Linked DNA regions of Homo sapiens: region 1 is linked to region 2. Evidence: fine-mapped expression QTL. Tissue or cell type: CD4 T cells. Region 2 holds a variant in brackets; the other region holds the start of a gene. All regions are shown on one strand. Distances are between the middles of the regions.

Region 1 (2,621 bases), 56 kb before region 2:
CGAGGGGTAAGGGAAAGTTAGGAGTGACTGCTCAGTGGGTATACTGTTTTATTTTTCCGTGAAGAGAATATTTTGGAACTAGATAGAGGTGGTGGATACACAACATTGTGTCTGTACAAAATGCCACTGAATTGTTGACTTTAAAATGGTTAATTTTATGTTGTGTGGATTTCATCTACCCAAAAATAATACCCTTTCTTTGCTCAATATCCTGCAATGGATCCCCAGTTGACTCAGAGTAAAAGACAGCGTGCCTTCAAGGGCCCCGGAGGTCCCACCTGATTGGGTCCCTCTTATCTCTCCTCTCCCTCCCACTCACTCCATTCCAGCCACACTGGCCCCCCTGCTGATCCTCGGAGGCGCCAGGTGGCCTCCTGCTAGGAGCATTTGCTCCAGCAGTTTCCTCTGCCTGGAACACTTTCCGCAGGTATCTGTCCAATTCTTCTAACTTCCTCATCTTCTCCTTACCAATCCCCTGGGGACAATAATTCTCAGTTTCCTCTGTATTCTCAGTTTATCAATTTTTCCTGTTCTAGCGCTGGATTACAACTGCTGGTCTCCCTGCCTGCCTTCCCTGCTTCCCAGAGCACGAAGAAGCTTGCCTCCGCAACCCACTATTTGTGTGACCTTGGTCCAGGAACTGGACTGGGCTCTCCTCCTGAAAGTGGGTAAATAATGTCACCGACCTAATGAGGCTGTTGAGGCATGGAATCTGATCAGGCAGATAAAGTGCCCCTGGCAAACCTCAATTTTCTGTTTCTCAACAAAGCTTTGGCGACTTATAAGAATTTGCGGGAAAGTGTCCAGAACCCGGAGTCAGGAGCCCTGACTTCTAGCCCTGAAGGGCCGCGTGACCTTGGCCAAAGCCCCTAATCCTTCTCAGTCTCAGATCCGGGGGCTGGAAACTGAGGAGGTTCTCCCGGCAAGCCCCTCGGGCTAGTGACATTCTAAGATTCCAAGAGCTAAGGAGCTAGAGGGGTGGGGTGGAGGAGGGAGGCGGGCGCGCCGGATTGGCCTCTGCGCGCCACGTGTCCGGCTCGGAGCCCACGGCTGTCCTCCCGGTCCGCCCCGCGCTGCGGTTGCTGCTGGGCTAACGGGCTCCGATCCAGCGAGCGCTGCGTCCTCGAGTCCCTGCGCCCGTGCGTCCGTCTGCGACCCGAGGCCTCCGCTGCGCGGTGAGTGGGCTGAGGCTGGAGAGGGGAGTCGCTCTGGGAACCCCTTCCCGGGGGCTGCAGGGACACAAGAAATAAGCGCCCAGTCATCGGCTGATGGGTACCCCCCGCCAGGAGCAGGGACGGGAGGGCGCGGTAACCCGAGAGTGTCGCAGACTGGGTGTGTCTGGGGAGCGCAGCGGAGCAAATCTGGGGTCGGGGCGGAGAGGCGCGGGCGGAGGGCGCCCTGGCTAGGGGGAGGGGAGGGAGTCCCGTTGCTGCAGAGGGTCTGGTTGAGGGTCCTGGGCGCCGGAGCTGAGCCAGGGGCTGGTCCTGCCGGCCTTAATTTGGGGGGGCTCAAGAGACTTTGAAGGTCCGGGGTTGGGGTCAGCTGGACGCCAGTCAAAGGACCCGCAGAGAAGGGTGTGGCTGAGGCCCAAGACTGAGAGCAAGAGCGTTGGACCCTCCAGCTGCTTATAAAATGGCTTGTGTGTGGTGTCGGGGGAGGGCTGCCTGCGTGCAGAGAGCTGAACGTCCGGTCGTACATACCTCAGGGCCTCATTGGACCCCATCCCCTTTGGGCCACTGCTTGTCTATGAATGCAGTCTCCCAACGGGGCTCCGAGGCCTCCTATGGTGAGGCAGGGGCACTACCCTTCTTTCTGCATCCCCTAAGCGGTCTAGGCCTTCCCAAAGTTTGGGGGCTTCAAATAATTCCCCATATACCAGCATGGGAGCAAAATACCCTGAATCGGAATCCCAGCCCCTGTTGCAGTGTGACTTTGGGCGGTGGCTTTCCCTCTCTGAGCCTGGATTTCCTTCTCCAAGTCCATAGTTGAGAAACCCAGTCTCTTTCAAAGGAAACAATGGCTTTGAAAACTGATTTATTTGTCAGCTGTATGGAATGATTGCAGGTTTGGGAGTCTTGATTATAGATTTGGGAAGCCTGGCACAACCCTTGTAGGCCCTACAAGGGGAAAGGGCAGGAGGTCCTTTGGGACAACTAATCTGGCCACGGCTTCCTGCCTCCTCCTTCCTTTCCCTAGATTCTAGTGGGTCTTCTCTGACAATTCCAAATTTGGACATATGGCTCCCGGGTTTGTGAAAGGACTCTGGTTTCCCCCCAAGAGTCCGCCCTTTTCCCTCCATTATTCCTTCCCCCTTGCCCAAAACATGCTTGGGATTGCTTCCACTGACCCAGATGGCATATCCTGACCTGCGTAGCCCTTCATGGTGAAGTGAATGACCGCCCCAGTTTCAGCCCCTGTGGACCCTGACCTCCTAGCAGGCAGGCCCTGAGCCACGCCGAGGGCACTGGCCTGGGGTCAGAGGAAAGCCCGGTTACAGTCCGGATGTGCTGGGACTTCTTGAGCAAGCCCTTTCTCTAAGGCTTTGTGCCCCATCTGGAGCAAAGTCTGCTGAACTGGCTGCCACTGCCAGTGCAGACATTCTAGGATTCAACTGTTCTAAG
Region 2 (2,758 bases):
CGAGTAGCTGGGACTGCAGGCATGCATCACTATGCCTGGCTAATTTTTGTATTTTTAGTACAGACAGGGTTTCACTGTGTTGGCCAGGCTGGTTGCTAGCTCCTGACCTCAAGTGATCCACCTGCCTTGGCCTCCCAAAGTGCTGGGATTACAGGTGTGAGCCACCACACCTGGCTGCGTCTGACTTTTTTGACATATGGAGCTTATATTTTTGCTCTTTGAGATCAGCCAAGATCTTAAAGTCTGATGCTTGGTTCTACTTGGCTAACGAGACTATGGGCATCTCAGAGGCAGTCTCTTACAGACTTAGTAGGAATGTAAGTAAATTGTTGGCACATTTTGATACTATATTATGTTTTAAAATCATACATCAAAAAATACAAGGACAAACAAAATCCCGAAAACCATGTCTCATAACAATGATAGGAGTCCCTCAGAAGGGAGATCCATACCATACCATGGGTCAGGAAGTTTGGCCTCCCCAGTCTGAACGTATACCAGACCACTGTGATGTGTGGTGAGCGTGATGGTGTTTGTACCCATTCCCAGCAATGGCTTGGCAGTTAGCACTCAATGTTGTTTGTTCAAATAAGAAATCACCTAACACGATATGCCAAGGGCCATGGGGGAGGGTATCAGCAGAGTGCCAGGGGAACCAAGGGAGGCCAGAGTTCACTGTGCCTCCTGACGCAAGAGAGTGGCCAGAGTGCTTCTCAGAGGAGAGGGCCCTGCTGGCAAATGGGATTGGGGGTGCACAGGGGCATGTTGGACAGGGGAGTGACAGGTGGAGAGAGGACTGAGATGCTCCTGGGGGAAAGGAACAGGTGAAGCTGCAGAGCTCTGCACAGGTCAGATCCCAAAGGGCCTTGAAGCCAGGCCGGGAGCTTGCATATCTTCCTGGGGATAAACAAAAGGGACGTGGTCACATTTATGTGTCTGGGAGATCCCAGTAGCCTACATGTGGCATGGGATCCTATGTTGGTCATGGAGAGAAGCCGAGGGAGATGTCCAGACAGATGGGCAGCCGGGAGGAGGGGGCATTGAGACTGGAAGGACTGTTTTCACTCACTCTGCTCTCTGCCTCTGCCAGGGTGACACCTCCGGAGACTTCCTGAAGGCCTTGCTGGCTCTCTGTGGTGGTGAGGACTAGGGCCACAGCTTTGGCGGGCACTTCTGCCAAGAAATGGTTATCAGCACCAGCCGCCATGGCCAAGCCTGATTGTTCCAGCTCCAGAGACTAAGGAAGGGGCAGGGGTGGGGGGAGGGGTTGGGTTGGGCTCTTATCTTCAGTGGAGCTTAGGAAACGCTCCCACTCCCACGGGCCATCGAGGGCCCAGCACGGCTGAGCGGCTGAAAAACCGTAGCCATAGATCCTGTCCACCTCCACTCCCCTCTGACCCTCAGGCTTTCCCAGCTTCCTCCCCTTGCTACAGCCTCTGCCCTGGTTTGGGCTATGTCAGATCCAAAAACATCCTGAACCTCTGTCTGTAAAATGAGTAGTGTCTGTACTTTGAATGAGGGGGTTGGTGGCAGGGGCCAGTTGAATGTGCTGGGCGGGGTGGTGGGAAGGATAGTAAATGTGCTGGGGCAAACTGACAAATCTTCCCATCCATTTCACCACCCATCTCCATCCAGGCC[G/A]CGCTAGAGTACTGGACCAGGAATTTGGATGCCTGGGTTCAAATCTGCATCTGCCATGCACTTGTTTCTGACCTTAGGCCAGCCCCTTTCCCTCCCTGAGTCTCTATTTTCTTATCTACAATGAGACAGTTGGACAAAAAAATCTTGGCTTCCCTTCTAACATTAACTTCCTAAAGTATGCCTCCGATTCATTCCCTTGACACTTTTTATTTCTAAGGAAGAAATAAAAAGAGATACACAAACACATAAACACATTTCCAGTGAGGGCCTCTGTCTTCTACCTAGAGCCTGCAGCCTGGATTTTCCTCATTAGAGCTTGAGGTTGTAAAGTCTGTCCAGGAGCGAGTTACGTCTTTAAATTCTTGCAAGGTGTTTCCCGGGAAGCGCACAGGAGAATCTGAGTTTGCAGCAAGCCTGGGAAGGCTGGCCCAGCCCTGCTCCGGGCCTCAGGTTCCCCCTCATCCCCTCTCGCTGTCTGGACATTTCTGTATGCTCTTCATCCATTTCAACCAAGCCCAAACTTCCTCTTTTGAACTATGCAAGGGTGCCCGATGTGATCTTGATCTGGAGAGGTGCATGGAAAGTTTCCTTCATGCAGGTCACTGATAAGCAAGTAGGCGCAACTGCAGTTCCTCTGCCTTCCCTCCCCCGCTGCCCTACTTCTGGTCTGTGGCTTTGGTCTAAGATTGTCCAGTGACCATGGCATGGGGCTGGCTGCTGGCCAAAGGGCACTTCTCCCTACCCTGGCTGACCAGACTAGTTTATTGCAGGTTAGCGCGTGTTTGTTTTCTTTTCTTTCTTTTCTTTTTCTTCTTTTTTTTTTTTTTTGAGATGGACTTTCGCTCTTGTTGCCCAGGCTGGAGTGCAATGGCATGAATTTGGCTCACTGCCACCTCTGCCTCCCGGGTTCAAGCGATTCTCCTGCCTCAGCTTCCCGAGTAGCTGGGATTACAGACATGTGCTACCACACCTGGCTAATTTTGTATTTTTAATAGAGATGGAGTTTCTCCATGTTGGTCAGGCTGGTCTCGAACTCCTGATCTCAGGTGATCCACCCGCCTTGGCCTCCCAAAGTGCTGGGATTACAGGCGTGAGCCACCGTGCGCGGCGCATGTGTTTG

What was found. PIP is the estimated chance that this variant, and not a neighbour inherited with it, causes the effect.
Region 1: ANXA6 starts here. The variant in region 2 is fine-mapped to the expression of ANXA6 in CD4 T cells (CEDAR, PIP 0.95). The same link has a PIP of 0.9 or more in NK cells.

The regions. Positions count from the first base shown.
Region 1 is chr5:151,156,234-151,158,854 of GRCh38, reverse strand. It overlaps ANXA6 (annexin A6), which reads left to right and starts at 1,076. Exons shown (of 26, transcript NM_001155.5): 1 at 1,076-1,175. RefSeq lists a silencer at 204-263 and an enhancer at 59-915.
Region 2 is chr5:151,099,840-151,102,597 of GRCh38, reverse strand. It overlaps ANXA6 (annexin A6), which reads left to right. Exons shown (of 26, transcript NM_001155.5): 26 at 1,091-1,892. The coding sequence ends at 1,150. Among named protein-coding and RNA genes, the nearest start is that of TNIP1, 20 kb to the right of the region's middle. The variant G/A (reference allele first, on the strand shown) is at 1,639.